4 linked regions of the Homo sapiens genome follow. The protein of the gene in region 1 interacts with the protein of each later gene in a pairwise test. Each region holds a gene or a part of one and is shown on either strand. Other genes may lie near its edges.

Region 1 (4,630 bases):
TACCACTGTTCTGCTTCTTTCTTGGCTAGATCCTGTGGGATGGAAATTAATCTGTTGTAGCTGTCTTATGAATTACCAGACAATTCTAAATTACTTAATCAGTATTGTTACAATACTGCCACAACCACCACCACCCTTATTGTGGGGCATAGATTTGCAAGAAAATTATTTAACCCTTGTTTTCCAGCCTTAATGTGTATATAAATCACCTGAGGTCTTGTTAAAATGCAGATTTCACATTTGGTAGGTGTCAGATGAGGACTGTAATTCTGTATTTCTAACACTCCCCAGAGATGCCAAACTGTTGATTTGGGAGTCACAATTTTGAAAAGCAATGACTTAGACTTTTGGGAGACAAATGAGACCCAGATTTAAAAGGATGGACTAAAAACCTAAGATTTTAAAGCAACAAACCATTATCAGGAACACTAAAATAAAATAGAAAATAAGCTACACCAAGACTCTTAGTGGAAGGACAGATGGTCTGCATGTGGACCAGCAGAATATTATTTTTTGTTTAAGTATTCAAGAACAAAATCATAGAGTACTTTGTATTTTTCCTAGAGAGGTGAAAGATCTGTTGAGATCTGAAGAGTGAGCTTGCTTAACATTAACATAAAGAAGCATGAGATTTTGAACAATGCAGGTTGCTAAGTAAATCCAAGACCATGTGTGCTTATGTGTGTGAGAGGAGAAAGATTTATGGAGGGAGGAGGAAGTGGAGCCAGCAAATGCCTAGACAATGTACTAACTATAAGATGGAGCTAATGCCCTGCCATTGGAACTAGGTCACTATGGAACCCCAACTTGTCTGAAACTGGAGAGGAAAGAGATCCACAGAGCCTAATGCAGTAGAAACAGAGCATCCTTACATCCTTACGGAGATCTCAGCTGAGTCCAACATCCCTAAAAGTCTACAGAGAATATCTTAAAATGATACTCTTCCAGGATACTTCGGGTACACTGCCTATGGGTTAGCCCTGCTCCATAAGGAACACACACTCACACACACATACACATGCATACAAAATAAAAGAAGAAAAAAAAATTTCAGGCTTCCAGCCTGAAAGCCACTTAGTCTAGAGAAAGCCTTGCAGGGTGTTTGTGGGCATCCTAATGCTTGGAGACCTATAAATATACCACAGCTCTAGAGGCTGGGGAGGCCCAGGGCCAGCAGCACTGCCAGAGGAGAGATACCTTTCCAGCACTGTGAACAGTGGCTCCAGAGCATAGAAAGAGCCAAATGGTCCCTGTGTCTCTGGGGTCTAATGCCCAGTCTGATGAAATCTGAATGGTAGACTACAGTGAAAGCTCTAGGAAGTGAAATATCCCTTTATCGATGCCTTTGGAGTCCACTCTTGGATGAAATCAACACAAGCAGCATTCTCTATTGTACTATTTATTTTGGGAAAAGAAGGTAGTAGTGAAATTAGAATTTCTGGGCCTCAAGGAAAATTTTAATACCCACATATTAAAATTGTTTTGTAATTTTTCAGAGTCCTTTTATCTAAGGCAGAAAGAAAACAAATGATGGTTTAGTTTTACCTTGGCAACTTGTTCAAAGAGATAGGGCCTTGTTTGTATTCGCTGCTTCATTTCCTCCAGTTCTTTCTTATATTCTTTCGCTCTTTTACGGTCATTGTTCCTGGAATTAGCAAGACTTTTAGAAAGAATTTCATCTTTTCTAATCCAGAATACCCTTCATTTCCAGTAAAGCAGTGTAACTCTCGTGTACACTGTAAATTCCTATCTGACTTGGAAAATCATGACCCTGCTGTGATTACAGGAGCCTACCTACCTCGATAACTCTATTTTGCATTTTCTGGCAATAGGCCAGTGGTCTGTTGGATCCCAAGGCAAGCACCCCTTTTGACACATAGAGGACACTGACCGGTTCTCTTTCAGCTTTGCTTTGAACACTTCCTCCAGGCTTTTATGGGGATCCATGGCTTTTGCACGCAAGGTCACAGATTTGGACATTGCTTGAGACTTCTTTTTGTGTATCTCCAGCCACTGAATACTCTCATCTGCTTTGTTCTTTTTTTCAAGTGCACTTCTAAAGGAAGGAGGCAGAAAAAGAGTATAGATTACCAACCTGGGTATACTGAAAAGCAATCTTAGGCCAGGTGTGGTGGCTCACACTTGTAGTCCTAGCACTTTGGGAGGCCAAGGCAGGTGGATCACCTGAGGTCAGGAGTCCAAGACCAGCCTGGCCAATACGGTGAAACCCCAGCTCTACTAAAAATACAAAAATTAGCTGGGCATGGTGGTGTGCACCTGTAATCCCAACTACTCGGGAGGCTGAGGCAAGAGAATCGCTTGAACCCGGGAGGCAGAGGTTGCAATAAGCCAAGATCGCACTGCTGCACTCCAGCCTGGGCGACAGATCAAATTCCGTCTCAAAAATAATAATAATAATAAAATAAAATAAAATAGCCGGGCATGGTGGCTCATGCCTGTAATCCCAGCACTTTGGGAGGCCGAGGCGGGCGGATCACAAGGTCAGGAGATCGAGACTATCCTGGCTAACACTGTGAAACCCCATCTCTACTAAAAATACAAAAAATTAGCCGGGTGCGGTGGTGGGCGCCTGTAGTCCCAGCTACTCGGGAGGCTGAGGCAGGAGAATGGCATGAACCTGGGAGGCGGAGCTTGCAGTGAGCCGAGATCGTGCCACTGCACTCCAGCCTGGGCGACAGTGAGAGACTCCGTCTCAAAAAATAATAATAAATAAATAAATAAAATAAAGCAATCTTAGTAACCTTTTCTGGAAAGTAAGTTGGTGTTTTTAATGAATGGGGCATGTAATTTACCTCAACTGCCATTTTTAAAAATAATAAAATTCTAGGATTAAATGCACTGGCAGATGAAGCCTTTCCAGCACTAGGGACACAGTGAGTTCCTACCCTAGAAGTGCATTTACTGAACTGGAGAAACGTCAGTTAAAATATCCTTACTTAGGTCGGGCACGGTGGCTCATGGCTGTAATCTCAGCACTTTGGGAGGCTGAGGCGGGCTGATCACAAGGTCAGGAGTTCGAGACCAGCCTGGTCAACATGGTGAAACCCTGTCTCTACCAAAACTACAAAAAAAATTAGCTGGGTGTAGTGGCACGTGCCGGTAATCCCAGCTACTTGGGAGGCTGAGGCAGGAGAATCACTAAACCCGGGAGGCAGAGGTTGCAGTGAGCTGAGATTGCGCCATTGCACTCCAGCATGGGCGACAGAGCAAGACTCTGTCTCGAAAAAAAATATATATATCCTTACTTAAACAGTCCAACATTCAATAGGTCTTCGCCTATCTGGATACAAAATAATACTAATAGCTACCATTTACTGAGCTCCTTATTATGAACCAAGTACCATTACATTTCACATTGTCCTCATAACTGCCTTATGAGGTAAATACTAAATTCCCTTTTTATAGGGGAGGTGATTGAGGCTCAAAGGAGGTAAGCCCCTTGCTCAAAGCTACCCAGCATGCCAGTGGAAAAGCCCCTATTGGACCAGGACCTCTGACTCCGAAGCCTCTGGCCTTGACCACTCTGCTGGAAACAGTGGGCTGGAAGGTGTCTGGGTTCATGGTCCTTTGGGAATACAAATCTGCACATTCAGAGAGAACTGGAAATGAGCCTCCCTCAGTGCAGACTATTTGGGTTCAACTTGTAGCACTTAGTTTGTTCAGTTATCTACAAAGTAATATGTTGAGTTCTTCCAAAAGGAAAATCAACCAAGACTCTTATATTTGGATGTTTATATTCAAATGGACATACTGGGAAGAAGGACATGAAAATTTAATCTGTTAATATGTCAGATTCCCTGTGGCTGGAAAGCAGATGTGGATGTCCTCTATAGGAAGGCCAGCCTCTTTGTTCAGGAGGCCTGTGTTCTTGGGCCCTCAGGATACTGAGCAATTAATTAGCCCTGATTTAGTAGGTCTAACTGAAGTCTGAAGAAGAAAGGAGTATCCCTTGGACCGTAAATACTCTTCTACAATCCCTGCTGTGGGGCTTAACGATCCAAGTAGGTTCTGAGTACTCCCCTACATGCCCCATGGGAAGGCAGTAAGACATTAGTCCTCTCCCTGGCCTAAGCTGCTGTTACACCATGACCTCTCTTGCCTACTTCAGCTCAGAAGCCTGGTGGAAGAACCCTTGCTGGGGGCTGGCTTAATGAGAACATCATAACAGAATCAGGTCAGTTGAAGAGTTAAAAATAAGCAGGCTCTTGCTGCCCAACAGACTCTGACATCTTCCCAAGATGAATCTCAGAGAATCTCAAATCTATGCAATGGATGTCTCATATTTGCGGCAACTTCAGCCACCTGCTAGCATGCTTCTCTGAATTCTTGTTCCTCACTACTCCCTTCCTCTCACCCATGGGCTTTTATCCATGTTCTCTCTGTCTGGAACCTTCCTTCTCTCCAGGCTTTGTCTGGCGAACTCTTCCTTGTTCTTCAGTTTCACTTTAGACATCTATTCCACAAGACAAGACCCCCCTGCTCCAGGCTGCCCAGTGCCCTCACAGTCCCCTTTACCCCCCATCATTGCACTACTCAAAAAATATGGCCATTGCTTCTTTGCTTTTCTGTATTTCAGACTAGATAATAAACTGGAGGTTCCCTAAGATCT
Region 2 (4,630 bases), on another chromosome or scaffold:
TTGAAATATATTTTGTATATATTGGGTTAAATGTATTTTTATAATTTCACTCTTTTTTTAAATTTTTTTACTTTTAAAAAATGTGGCTTCTAGAATTAAAAATTCCATGTGCAGCTCCTGTTACGTTTCTGTTGAATAAGTCTCTTCGAGAAAATTTAGAGCAAGCTTTTCCAACCCGTGGCCTGTGGGCCGCATGCAGCCCAGGATGGCTTTGAACACGGCCCAATGCAAATTTGTAAACTTTTCTTAAAACATTATGAGATTTTTTTTTGTGATTTTTTTTTTTTTTTTTTTTTTTTGAGACTGAGTCTTGCTCCTTCACCCAGGCTGGAGTGCAGTGGCACAATCTCAGACCACTGCAACTTCCGCCTCCCAGATTCAGGTGATTCTCCTGCCTCAGCCGTCCCAGTAGCTGGGACTACAGGTGTGTGCCACCATACCCAGCTATTTTTTTGTATTTTAGTAGAGATGGGCTTTGCATCATGTTGCCCAGGCTGTTCTCAAACTCCTGAGCTCAGGCAATCTTCCCACCTCGGCCTCCTGAAGTGCTAGGATTACAGGTGTGAGCCACTGCGCCTGCCCACGATTTTTTTTTTTTTTTTTAAGCTCATCAGCTGTAGTTAGTGTTAGTGTATTTTATGTGTGGCCCAGGACAGTTCTTCTTCCAGTGTGTCCCAGGGAAGCAAAAAGATTGGACATCCCTAGTTTAGAGCCAGATTTGTGGCCCTCCTTAGGCAGGGTCTACACTGTTGTAGGTAGGTGTGTGCATTTTCATATCCTCATTCCTCGTTCCATTACAGGTTTCTACCTTTGTGTTCTTCCTGTTACTGTAATTAACATGTCAAACCATTTCCTGTATTCTTACCTGCTGACCCAGATCTTTTCAGGATCAAGGCAGGGGATGGGGGGAGGATAGAAGAGGTAGAAGGGACTAAAAGGAAGATTGTGCATGTCAGCCTGACTCCCTCACTGGGTTGCTGAAAGGCCCGAATGAGGTGAGTGGGGGCCAACATCACGGCCATATGAGTGGGAAGTGATTGTGGTGTCACTGCCAAGTGCAAGTCATGGGTCTGGGCAGCAGGCACATGCTGGGCTGGGTCTCTCTGGCCTGTCCAGCCTCCTGTCCAGAGACAGCAGGGGCTGGTGAAGGCAAATCCTATAGCTAGGCACCAGGTATTTCCTGGCACAAGGCCCTTGGCACAGACCAGCACTGCTCCTCAGTAGTGTCCTTAGCTCACCAGGGGCTCTGGGAACTTTTGTGTTTTCTCGGGCAAGGGAGGATGACTTGAGGCCAGTACCCCTCTCAGCTCTCTTCCATTTCATGGAAAGCCCTGGATGGTTCTATTGCTTCTCTCTCCAGTCCTTCCAGGGGCCAGGAAGGCACTCAAACCAGCTTGTCCAGCAACTTTTCCCCAGGACTCTCCCTCCCTCCCACAGGATCTGCTCTATAGGGACCTGCGGTCATGGTCACCCATTGCCCAAGCAGGCCAAAAGGCTTCTTGGACTCTATACACTTTCCTGATCTTGACCTTAGTCATCCACCAAGCCCCTGTGATTCTGTGTCCTGCGTTGCCTTGGGATCTGCCCTCTCCTCTGCCACCTGGAATACTATAGACAGCCTCCACCTTTTTTTTTTTGTTTGTTTTTTGTTTTTGTGATGGAGTCTCACTGTGTCGCCTAGGCTGGAGTGCAGTGGCACGATCTGGGCTTACTGCAATCCCTGCCCCCCGGGTTCAAGCCATTTTCGTGCCTCGGCCTCCCAAGTAGCTGGGATTATAGATGTGTGCCACCACGCCCAGCTAATTTTTGTGTTTTTGCTAGAGACAGGGCTTCACCATGTTGGCCAGGCCGGTCTTGAACTCCTGGCCTCAAGTGATCTGCCCACCTCTGCCTCCCAAAGTGCTGGGATTACAGGTGTGAGCCACCATGCCTGTCCCAGCCTCCACTTTTGTCTCCCTGGCTCCCCCAGGCTTTCGTTACATTGGCACCAGGCTCTGAGAGACCCTTTTGCCATTGCAGAAAGTCCTGGTACTACCTCCCATAGTGCTGTAGCCTTACTGACCTTCTCACCTGCCAACTTGTCTGCCCAGGGTACCTGCTCCCCTTTGGTTCCTTGGCCCTTTGTTCTTCACTGGCACTTTATTTTTTTGAGACAGAGTCTCGCTATGTTGCCCAGGCTGGAGTGCAGTAGTGTGATCTTGGCTCACTGCAGCCTCTGCCTCCCAGGTTCAAGTGATTCTCCTGCCTCAGCCTCCCAAGTAGCTGGGACTATAGGTGCACGCTGCCACACCCGGCTAATTTTTGTATTTCTAGTAGAGACAGGGTTTCACCATGTTGCCCAGGCTGGTCTCAAACTCCTGACCTCAGGTGATCTGCCTGCCTCGGCCTCCCAAAGTGCTGGGATTACAGGCGTGAGCCACCTTGCCTAGTCATTCACTGGCACTTTTGTGTCTATGAAGTCCTTCCAGCTGCTGAGCAAGTGTTCCAGGCATCCTACCCTGACCTTCTGCTGCCCAATTAGGTGACCTTGCTACCCAGAGAGCACCCACACCCACCCCTCACAAGGCTGCACATACTGCCCAGGACCTGCTGCTGACTTGCTGGGTTTCCTTACAGGCTGCCACCTCTATGTCCTGAATTCTCAGGTCTCACGGTCCTGAGAGGTGATAAGTGTGCAGTAAACATGTGCTGACTGAGTGGCCCTGCCCTGGCCCAGGTGGCCATCCTCTCGCAGAGAGCGAGCCTTCAGGTCCAAGGAGACTCCCTCAGTTTGAGGAAGTGTTGCAATCTCACGGAGAGAGTGAGGGCTCACCACAACTTCACGTTGTGCATATTAGTGTTGCATTCTCCAAACCTCAATTTCTTCATCCTTGAAACTGGGGTTTTACTACCCAATACAAGGTAGAGTTGTGAGGATTACGTGAGATTGTATGTATCAGGTCCCTGATAGACAAGAAAGCTTTTGGCAATCTCCGTATCTTCTTTCCTTTCCTGAGTGTCTCACCTCATTTCCCTGGGCAAGTGGGGCTCTCTCTCTCTGTGTTGCTCCTGCCTTGCATGGTTCATTCAAGGCTACTTCCTTCCACTGCACTAATTTGCCACCCCTCTCTGTGGCAGGAGGAGTTGGAGCACCTGAACCAGGCCAGCGAGGAGATCAACCAGGTGGAACTACAGCTGGATGTGAGTGTCCTTTTCCTTATGTGCTTGGGCTGGTCCTTGGAAGTATCTCCATCTGTCTCTTTCCCAGATTGAGGCAGTGGCGGTGGGAGGGGTGTGTCTGAGAAACAAGAGGGGCTGGGACCCAAACATGTGCCTTTCCTCTGCCTTGTTCCTTTCCAGGAGGCCAGGACCACCTATCGGAGGATCCTACAGGAGTCGGCGAGGAAACTGAATACACAGGGTTCCCACTTGGGGAGCTGCATCGAGAAAGCCCGGCCCTACTATGAGGCTCGGCGGCTGGCTAAGGAGGTATGGCTGGCTGACCACGTTTGAGGAAGGCTACGTGCTGAGCCTGGCCCTGGATTCTTCTGTCTCTATATGGAGTGAGAGACAAAACACCAGACCCTGAGGGCAGAGCCCTGGGCTAGACCTGGCTGGTCGGAACCAGCTCTGTGGGCTCAGGAGGTTCCTTTACCACGTGGGCTCTGGGCTTATGGTCTATAAAATGGTGAGGGTGGCTGTGGGAGAATATTTAGTTCAGCCCTGCTAATGTTTAAGTGCCTTCTGTGTATCAGGAATCAGGCTTTAGGGTATATCAGATATGTCAGTTCTAACATCCTGTTGTTTTCATCTGCGCCCATTTCCTCTTCCCTTTGGTTCATGTCTCTCTTCTGAATCTTTTCTTTGCTTACTCCTCACTCTTTTCCCCATCCCACACCCCTTTTTTCTGTAACAAATTACTTTTAACAAATAATATGTGTTCACCATTGGAAAAACATAATAAAACAAGAAGGAAACAAAAATCACCCAAAATCCTACCATGCACGTTTCATGCATTTTGTTTCCTGGGATTTGTTGTCATCCTGTATGGTGAGGTGACAGATACAGACAACTGCCTTGGAAGAAGAGTTTGTTCCCGAGAGGAGGGGACATCCATGCCATGCAGGGCCACACGGGGAAGCAGCCAGGGTCCTTCAGGAGGCAGAAGTGAAGGAGAAAGCAAAGCGCAGCGCCTTAGTGTGGTTTTCGTGGAAAGGAGTAGGTGAGGCAGGGTAGGCAAGTTTGGATAAGTTTAGGAGTGGATAGTTGGAATAACTTTGCTAGGCCCTGGGCTATAGGGGCGGCCTCTAATTGTCTAGTACCTGGCCCTGGGATGACTTAGGGCAGAGGAAATATCGGCTTGGTCGGGGAGAAGTAGGTAAAGGAGTTAGCTGGGGATCCAGGCTTTGGATTAGGTGGTTGGTTTGCATATGAAAGGCACACTTACAGGGGAGTTTACTGTTTCTAGGAATTAGCCCTGGAAGGGGCAGTTTGTCCTTGGCCAGCAAGGTCCCCCAAGACATGAAAGCATCATAAAGTATAGAAAATAAAAATATGATTAATACAGCACAGATAACCATGTGTGCTGTATTAATCATATTTCGTGTCCTTGTATATCCAGCCAAAATGGGATTACACAGTATGTGCTATT
Region 3 (5,140 bases), on another chromosome or scaffold:
CCATAAGAGTGAAAATCCCTGCAGCCTCCTAGGCCAGGACTTGAACACACTGAAGGCAGCGCTCCTGCAGCTGCAGCTGCTGCCAGCCGACTCACCCAACCTGTGCTACCTTGTCATGGGCATTGGGGTCCCCTCCGTCTGTCAAGTACTTGTCAATCAGGTACTCCTGGTTCTCAGCAGCTGCCTTCAGGAACATCTCCAGGCCCACAGGCTCCACCTGGGCCTGGGACTGCGGCTGGTTCAGTTGAAGACAAGACCAAATCACTCCCGAAGGCCGCAGGTGCCCAAGATGTCACAGCTTCACCAGTCTGGCCCACGGGTCCCATGCAGCCCACCAAGGAACACTGCTGGCTCGTACTAATGCAGTTTCTTATTCTAATCCCACGCCAGGAGATTGAATAGACTGTGTGTGTGTGAGCGTGTGTGTTATGGATTGACTTGTATCTCCCCAAGATTCGTATGAAGTACTAACCCCAGGTACCTCAGAATGTGACCTTATTTGGAAACAGAGTCACTGAGGATGTAATTAGTTAAGATGAGGTCACACCGGCGTATGGTGGGCCCCTCACCAATATGACTTGTGTTAAAGTGGGCTCTAATCCAATGTGACTGATGTCCTTATGAAAGGGGACACGTGGGCCGGATGCGGTGGCTCATGCCTGTAATCCCAGCACTTTGGGAGGCTGAGGCGGGCAGACCACAAGGACAGGAGATTGAGACCATCCTGGCTAACACGGTGAAACCCCATCTCTACTAAAAATACAAAAAAAAATTAGCCGGGCGTGGTGGCGGGTGCCTGTGGTCCCAGCTACTCGGGAGGCTGAGGCAGGAGAATGGCATGAACCCGGGAGGCAGAGCTTGCAGTAATCCGAGATCGTGCCACTGCTCTCCAGCCTGGGCAACAGAGCGAGACTCCGTCTCAAAAAAAAAAAAAAAAAAAAAAAAAAAGTTGGGGGAGACACATGGACACAGGCATGCACACAGGCAGAACGCCCAGCAAACATGAAGGCAATAGTTGGGTGATACATCTACAAGCCAAGGAACGCCAAAGATCACCAGCATCCACCAGAAGCCGGAGAGGCATGAAGGGATTCTCCCTCACCACCCTCAGAGGGAACCAGCCTCGCCAACACCTTCCTGTTAGCCTTCCAGCCCCCAGGACAGCGAGGTGACACATGCCTGCTGTTGAGGCTGTCCAGGCTGTGGGACTTTGTTATGGCAGCCCTGGCGGACACATCCGCGGGGGCTCTGGAGTGGATTTAATGGGCTCCCCAGGCACTGGCTGTGTGGTCCTGGCCTGCAGTGCCCACTCTGCCCCAAGCCCTTCCTCTGGAACTGGAGCCCTGGTGTGTGCACTGCCCTAACCCCGACCTCCCACTCACCTTAACCAGGGGCTCAGGTTTCCTGGGGGGGACTCTGTGTCTCAGTCGCTTTTTCCGTCTTTGAACCAAGTTTTCCAAGTCAGCCAGGTTATCCAGATTAAATCTGGTACTGTTAAATCTTTCAAGCTGGGGCAGAAGACAAGACCATGCCAGCCATCAGCCGCTGGTCAAGAGATCTCTCTGCCCTGCCGACAGGAGACACCAGCTGCTCAGGCTGCCCCACCAGAGTCCCTCCAGGCCTCACTGCTCAGCCGGCCTCAGGGATTAGCCACTGCCCCCAACCCCGGCCCCCGCCCCTCTCTCACTTTCTTCTTCTTCTCTTCTTCCAATTTCAGCTTCTCCCGGGCCACAGCCTCTTGGGGGCCCCTCCTCCAGTCACTAGGCCAGGCTCCAGGGTCAGGAACTCCATGTCCAAATCCCAACACTTTCCCTTCAACTCTTTCTCCACTTACCTGTAGGAACAGGATATGAGTACTGAGTTGGGAAAATTGGAGGAACCCTTAGAAAACAGAGCTGTGGAGTAGCAGGGAGCTGTCTTATAAGGGCAGATGTCACAAGGCTGGTGCCCGGGATGGGAGCCGGCCTCAAAGCTCCTGCAGTCCAGAGTGCTGGCAAGCTCCCTCACCCTGTGGGTGCTGCAGGCTCCGCAACTGTGTCATCAGCTGACACCCAGGGGGACAACGGATCCCCGCCTACCCTGCTCCTGTCAGCAGGAACACAGCTGGGGGGACATGAGGCCACAACCTATTTATACTGCTGGGCATTTGCCCAGGTAGCCTCAGGGCAGATGACACCTTAGCTTCCCCCATGTTGTTAAGATTCCTACCAGATCATACTGACTGCCACCTGACTCCAAGCTCAGAGGGACAGAGAAGTCCCCCCGGGGTAAAATTCTAAATGCCTGGGTTCAGTTCTCGGCTCCTTTTGAAGCTACATTTAAGCTCAAACACTTAAGGCAATTGCCTAAAGGAGTTGTGAAGGTTATGAGTTATTGGGACCTGTGCCTGGGGCAAAGCCTCCGTAGCAAACACCCATGCTTCCTCCCACCGGGCCCCACCTCAGGAGTTCAGGAGCTGGGGAGCACTGAGGAATCAGCCTGTTGTGGGGAAAGAACAGGGTGGAATGATAGGGTAACAGATCCTAGGACTTTCTAGTCAGGTAGAACCATATTCCTTCTAAAGAACTCTAGCAACCTAACACCTCCCTGCCATTTGCCTCCCGCCAGAGGCTGCACCAGGCTGGGGCCAGCAGCCCACAGATGGGCTTGCTGGGCCTCACACCCTCCAGGCCCCTCGTCACTCAAACCGACATCCCTAAGAGTCACTGTTTCCCTCACTGCCCAGGGAGCGAAAGAGCACCCTTCCCTATCCCCAAGGCAGCCAGGACCTCTGGCCATTTCCAGAGCAACAACTATCATGGTGCTTAAGCTGAACTACAACCACCACAGCCACACTTGCATCTTCCAAAGTAACCTGCCATTTCCTGTTCCTCTTTCACCATCACTATCCAGGGCAAAACTCACTGAACTCAAGGATTTTCATGTCTTCTTTCCCATTCGACTTCCCTCTCTTGCTCCCTAACCCCCTCACCACCTCACATGAGAACCGAGCAGACACACCAGAAAGAACCGCACGCTCAGCCGGGTGTGGGGGTACACGCCTGGAGTCCCAGCTACTTGGGAGGCCCAGGTGGGAGGATCACTTGAGCGTGGGACTTCAAGGCCAGGCTGGGCAACACAGCAAGACTCCGTTTCAAAAAATACAGATTTTTATAAAAGAACTGCATGCTTCCCTGCACCTAAGACTTGACCCTCACACCACAGAAAGAAGCTGCCAGCCCTCTCTAGCCAGCCTCCTCCTATCAAGCCGGTCCCAGGGTGCCTCCCACCTCCGTCCCACATCCTTACCAACTGCTGAATGCTGATGAAGTCCATGGTCCCCCCTGTTCCTCACACCCCCCAGTGAGAAGAGCTGAACTGCTCAGCCCTTTATAGGAGCGCCTGGAGACGGGCAGGGGTGGACAGGGAAGGACTGGCGCAGGTGCAAGCCCCTGGGCCAGATGACTCTGGGACTCTGTCACACCAACTAAAATACCAGTCTGGGAATGCAGCCCACTGGGGAAAAGAAAAGGAGCTGTTTGGAGATGAGTTGGCTGCATCCTCGGACACCCACTCCTGCACCTCTGCCATGCCCCACACCTACTCAGGGGCCATTTAACCAACACACTGCTAGCCCAGATTCGGGTGAAACGTGTTCCCCTCTCCTAAGTTTAGATGCCACTCCTGAAGAAAGCCCAGCCTGGGCCTCCATGTTGTAGGGCCGGCTGCCTGTGAACCTGAAAGCCCAGCCTAGGTGGCTGAGCAAGGAGGCTGGAAGCCTGAGGGGGTGGTCGGGAGGGGCAGGAGCGGCCAGCCTACAGCCTCAGCCCTCATGGTGGCCACGTGAGGAAACCGTGATCTCCCAACTTGCAGTTTCAAGGCTGCCCTTCCCTTCCCTGTGCTGTGGGTTTCTCGCCCCCGGGCTCCCCCGCTCCTCCCTCAGTGCTCTGAGAGCACATGGCAGCTGCCCCAGCCCCGAAGCCAAGCCTGGCGCCTGTCCTCGGGCCTCTGGAAGTCCTCCCCGCCCCTCTACAAGCCCCTACCAGACGCTCTCCAGGGACGGAGTGTGCCCCTCCAGCCACAGGAAAGGGGAGACTGATCCGCGTCAGGTCCCGGGATGGAATAGTAACCATGAAATCCAGCCGCAGAGCAATGTGTCTCAAGCCATCAGTCACCCTTCCTAATTCTCAGGAAGCCAGGCATGCCCTTCACCCAGCTGAACCTTGAACTCCGCCTTGGCCTTTGCAAGGAAATCAGCCAGTAAATAAGACCCCAAAATCGGAGCAACCTGAGAAGACATGACCAGGGTACAAGGAGGGAGAACTGTGGCCAAGGATGGCCACAGGCCCCAGATGGCTCCCCAGCTCCCAAAGAACTGGCCTCTTGGAAGGGCTTCCACATTTTCAGAGAACTCAGGAAAAGGCAGAGCTTTCTTAGAAAACTCAGTTCTTGGCCCGGCAACAGTGAGACTCCGTCTAAAAAAAAAAAAAAAAAAAAGTTTTCTTTTTTTTTTTAATTTTTTGAGACGGAATCTCGCTCTGTGGCCTGGGCTAGAGTGCAGTGGCGCGATCTCAGCTCACTGCAACCTCCACCTCCCGGGTTCAAGCAATTCTCCTGCCTCAGCCTCCCGAGTAGCTGGGATTACAGGCACCTGCCACTATGCCCAGCTAATTTTTTATATTTTTAGTAGAGACGGTGTTTCACCATGTTGGCCAGGCTGGTCCTGAACTCCTGACCTTGTGATTCACCCGCCTCAGCCTCCCAGAGTGCTGGGATTACAGGCTTGTGCTATCGCGCCCAGCTGAAAACTTAGTTCTTAGGCTAAATTTAGGGTGCTTTTTTCAGACAAAGGTGTTCCTTGCTTTTTTTTTTTTTTTTCTTTTTGAGATGGAGTTTCACTCTTGGTGCCCAGGCTGGAGTGCAATGGCGCGATCTTGGCTCACCGCAACCTCCACCTCCCCGGTTCAAGTGATTCTCCTGCCTCAGCCTCCCGAGTAGCTGGGGTTACAGGCACGTGCCATCACCCTGGCTAATTTTGTATTTTTAGTAGAGATGGGGCTTCTCCATGTTGGTCAAGCTGGTCTCAAACTCCTGACCTCAGGTGACACCCAGCCTGTTCCTTGCTTTTGGTTATGAGGAGGGAAAGAGTCATCTAAAATGA
Region 4 (4,630 bases), on another chromosome or scaffold:
TAGGACAAGAAGCACAGGGTCTGGGGTCCAGGATCTGGGGTGTGAGTCTGAGTCCTGCACTTACTGGCAGCTGATAGGGTCTAAGGGCTGACATCTGGGGTTCTAATAGGACCACCCTTGAGCAAGTCATTTAATATTTCTCAGCCTGGTTTCTTCACAAAGAAGTGGAGACAACTCTTTTTTTTTTTTTTTTTTTTTTTTGAGACGGAGTCTTACCCTGTCACCCAGGCTGGAGTGCAGTGGTGCGATCTTGGCTCACTGCAACCTCCATCTCGCGGGTTCAAGCAATTCTCTGCCTCAGCATCCCGAGTAGCTGGGATTACAGGCACCTGCCACCACGCATGGATAATTTTTGTATTTTCAGTAGAGACGGGGTTTCACCATGTTGGCCAGGCTGGTCTTGAATTCCTGACCTCATGATCCACCTGCCTTGGCCTCCCAAAATGCTGGGATTACAGGCGTGAGCCACTGTGCCTGGCCAGGGACAACTCTTGCTTTGCCTATCTTACAAAGTTATGAAGTTTATTTTATTTATTTATTTATTTTGAGATGCAGTCTCACTCTGTCACCCAGGGTAGAGTGCAGTGGCGCCATCTCAGCTCACTGCAACCTTCACCTCCTGGGTTCAAGCAATTCTCCTTCCTCAGCTTCCTGAGTAGCTGGGACTACAGGCCCCTGCCACCATGCCCAGCTAATTTTTGTATTTTTAGTAGAGATGGGATTTCACCATGTTGGCCAGGCTGGTCTTGAACACCTGACCTCAAATGATCCACCCACGTCCACCTCCCAAACTGCTGGGATTACAGGCGTAAGCCACCGCGACCGGCCTGAAGTTTAAATAAGAATGAGCTGAGTGTGGTGGCGGGTGCCTCTAATTCCAGCTACTCAGGAGGCTGAGGCAGAAGAATCACTTGAATCTGGGAGGCGGAGGTTGCAGTGAGCCGAGATTGCACCACTGCACTCCAGCCTGGGTGACAGAGTAAAACTCTGTCTGAAAGCAAAACAAAAAAAATTAGATGTGCATCTGGGCGTGGTAGCTCATGCCTGTAATCCCAGCACTTTGGGAAGCCAAGGCGGGCAGATCGCTTGAGCCCAGGAGTTCGAGATGAGCCTGAGCAACATAGTGAGACTTTGCCTCTATTTTTATTTATTTATTTATTTCTGGTTTCAAACTCCTGACCTCAGGTGATCTGCCTGCCTCAGCCTCCCAAAGTGCTGGGATTACAGGCGTGAGCCACTGTACCTAGCCAATTTTTTTTTTTTTCTTGAGACAGAGTCTGACTCTGTTGCCCAGGCTGGAGTGCAATGGCATGATCTCGGCTCACTGCAGCCTCCGACTCCCAGGTTCAAGCAATTCTCTTGCCTCAGCCTCCTGAGTAGCTGGGACTACAGGTGCACGCTACCGTGCCTGGCTAATTTTTGTATTTTTAGTAGAGATAGAGTTTCACCATGTTGGCCAGGATGGTCTCGATCTCCTGACCTCGTGATCTGCCCGCCTCAGCCTTCCAAAGTGCTGGGATTACGGGTGTGAGCCACCGTGCCCGGCCTATTTTTTTTTAAATAAATAAAAAAAAATGAGATATGCAAAATACCATGTAAACTGCAATGAACTGCATAGATGTTCATTATGACAGTAGAACAGGAAAAGCCTCTTAGAACAGCCATCCTAGGAAGGCATTTGGGGACCAACAGGAAGGGCTACTGTGGGCAGGCAGGCTCAGGTGGAACAAAAGGAAGAAGTAATTCCAACAATCCATGGGGTGGGGGTGTGTGATTTATGTTGCCAGATAGATCTTGTGTTCACTCCTCTTGCTTGCTGGTGATTTTGGGCATGCCGCTTAACATCTCTGAACCTCAGTGTCTTTGCTTATAAAAGTAGGATTAGGACTACCCAAACTCCAGGGAAGTTGAGAGCCCTAATGTGAACCCAGTTGAGAAACTCTGCCCTGTAATGCTGCTCAGCTATAGTCCATGGAGCAGTAATATTCCAAACCCTAGTCCTCTATTGCTTCTCAACATTGGACAAGTGTGAGCAAAACATATGGATTAAGCAGTCGGTGAGGAGAAGGAAGAGTGTCTGCCCAGATGAGCTTGGGTGTGAGACAGTCTTGGAGACCAACAAGATACAACAGATCAACCCCAAGTGCTCACTGGGTTAAATCAATACCTTCTTATCAAGACTAATATATTATTCGCCGTGCAGTGGCTCAAGCCTGTAATCCCAGCACTTTGGGAGGGAGAGGTGGGCAAATCACGAGGTCAGGAGTTCAAGACCAGCCTGGCCAACATAGTGAAACCCTGTCTCTACTAAAAAAATACAAAAATTAGCCGGGTGTGGTGGCGGGCACCTGTAGTCCCAGCTACTCGGGAGGCTGAGGCAGGAGAATCTCTTGAACCTGGGAGTGGGAGGTTGCAGTGAGCCGAGATGGAGCCACTGCACTACAGCTTGGGCAACACAGAGAGACTCTGTCTCAAAAAAAAAAAAAAAAAAAAAAAGACTAATCAATTCTCCAAACTCTGTTCTTGCTCATGCTGGAAGCACCAGGAAAGGCAAGGTAAGCAAGAAAATTGGGGAATTCTATAAATTCTGAGAAGCTGTTGAATGGAAAAGTTCAGTAGGTAACAGATGTTGTTAGTTTTGAATATCAAAGGAGACAACATTATAAAACAGACTTAAAACAAGGCAAACCAAACACCTGCTAGGGCCTGTACACTTATCCAAAAAGCTTGGGCTTGGGCGTGATGGCTCACACCTGTAATCCCAGCACTTTGGGAGGCCGAGGTGAGCAGATCATGAGGTCAGGAGATCGGCCGGGCGCGGTGGCTCACGCCTGTAATCCCAGCTCTCAGGGAGGCTAAGAGGCGGGAGGATAGCTTGAGCCCAGGAGTTCGAGACCTGCCTGGGCAATATAGCGAGACCCCGTTCTCCAGAAAAAGGAAAAAAAAAAAACAAAAGACATGAGGTCAGGAGATCGAGACCATCCTGGCTAACACGGTGAAACCCTGTCTACTAAAAATACAAAAAATTAGCCAGGTGTGGTGGCACGCGCCTATAGTCCCAGCTACTAGGGAGGCTGGGGCAGGAGAATCGCTTGAACCCGGGAGGCAGAGGTTGCAGCGAGCTGAGATCATGCCACTGCACTCCAGCCTGGGCAATAGAGTGAGACACTCCATCTCAAAAAAAAAAAAAAGTTTAAGATGTTTTATATTAAATATTTTATGGTAACCCTCAGAGGGGAATGGGAAACATTTATATTTCTACCTCAAAGCTGGACCAAACTCAGTTATTTATTTACTTTTATTTTTATTTTTTTAAGACGTAATCTGGCTCTGTCGCCCAGGCAGGAGTGTAGTAGCATGACCTCGGCTCACTGCAACCTCTGCCTCCCGGGCTCAAGTGATCCTCCTGCCTCTGCCTCCCAAGTAGCTGGGATTGCAGGTGAGCACCACCAAGCCCGGCTAATTTTTGTATTTTTAGTAGAGATGGGGTTTCACCGTGTTGGTCAGGCTGGTCTCGAACTCCTGACCTCATGATCTGCCCACCTTGGCCTCCCAAAGTGCTGGGATTACAGACGTGAGCCACCGTACCCGGCCTCAAGCTCAGTTATTTAAGTGGTAGTAGGCAGTGGGTTTGTCAGGGTTATATCTTGGTATTCAGTGAACGCAAGCTGCTGAGTTCCATCCACCAAGTGCCAGGGTTATGAGGGTGAAAGGAGAAAAGCCGATAGGGAGGAGAAACCTGCCCCAGGAAAATGCACAATTCGAAGGTCCCTTGCAGAGGGTCCTGATGACATGTTCCACAGTGCTAAGGTCTAGCTTATCCATCATGCTGCCCCTTTTTAAAGGGAAAGGATGAGGACATCCACAGTGTCTCTAAGAGAAACAGTGAGTCTGGCCCAACATCACTAAATGCTGGTGAATAAGGAATATGGTAGATTAATGATGTTGTATTTTTTTTTAAATTTTATTTATTTACTATTTTTTGAGACAGGGTCTCACTCTCTTGCCCGGACTGGAGTGCAGTGGCCCGATCTCGGCTCACTGCAACCTCCGCCTCCCAGGTTCAAGCGATTCTCCTGCTTCAGCCTCCTGAGTAGCTGGGATTACAGGTGCATGCCACTACCGCCTGGCTAGTTTTTGTATTTTTAGTAGAGATGGGGTTTCACTATGTTGGCCAGGCTGGTCTTGAACTCCTGACCCCAAATGATGTACCCACCTCAGACTCCTAAAGTGTTGGGATTACAAGCATGAGCCACTCACTGCTCCCGGCCTGTATTATTTATTTATTTATTTATTTATTTTTTTTTGAGACGGAGTCTTGCTGTGTCTCCCAGGCAGCTGGAATGCAGTGGCAAGATCTCAGCTCACTGCAACCTCCTCCTCCTGGGTTCAAGCAATTCTTGTGCCTCAGCCTCCAGAATAGCTGGGATTACAGGCACAGGTCACCATGCCTGGCTGATTTTCTTTCTTTTTTTGAGATGGAGTCTCACTCTGCTGCCAGGCTGGAGTGCAGTGGCATGATCTGGGCTCACTGCAACCTCCACCTCCTGGGTTCTCCTGCCTCAGCCTCCCGAGTAGTTGGGACTACAGGTGCAAGCCACCACACCTGGCTAATTTTTGTATTTTTAGT

What was found. Proteins that work in one complex are often made in the same cells at the same time.
Region 2: the proteins of FAM161B (region 1) and SH3BP5L interact in binary tests that used the Homo sapiens proteins (3 or more experiments, as listed by UniProt).
Region 3: the proteins of FAM161B (region 1) and ANKRD23 interact in binary tests that used the Homo sapiens proteins (3 or more experiments, as listed by UniProt).
Region 4: the proteins of FAM161B (region 1) and TSNAXIP1 interact in binary tests that used the Homo sapiens proteins (3 or more experiments, as listed by UniProt).

What each region holds. Positions count from the first base shown.
Region 1 is NC_000014.9:73,936,057-73,940,686, forward strand, and holds part of FAM161B (protein FAM161B), read right to left. Parts: intron 2,057-4,630; coding exon 1,892-2,056; intron 1,646-1,891; coding exon 1,546-1,645; intron 33-1,545; coding exon 1-32.
Region 2 is NC_000001.11:248,815,372-248,820,001, reverse strand, and holds part of SH3BP5L (SH3 domain-binding protein 5-like), read left to right. Parts: intron 1-3,117; coding exon 3,118-3,180; intron 3,181-3,339; coding exon 3,340-3,468; intron 3,469-4,630. UniProt on the Homo sapiens protein: Functions as a guanine nucleotide exchange factor (GEF) for RAB11A.
Region 3 is NC_000002.12:96,840,678-96,845,817, forward strand, and holds the start of ANKRD23 (ankyrin repeat domain-containing protein 23), read right to left. Parts: upstream 3,345-5,140; 5' UTR 3,316-3,344; coding exon 3,289-3,315; intron 1,835-3,288; coding exon 1,688-1,834; intron 1,509-1,687; coding exon 1,383-1,508; intron 236-1,382; coding exon 110-235; intron 1-109. UniProt on the Homo sapiens protein: May be involved in the energy metabolism. Could be a molecular link between myofibrillar stretch-induced signaling pathways and muscle gene expression.
Region 4 is NC_000016.10:67,809,303-67,813,932, reverse strand, and holds part of TSNAXIP1 (translin-associated factor X-interacting protein 1), read right to left. Parts: intron 1-4,630. UniProt on the Homo sapiens protein: Possible role in spermatogenesis.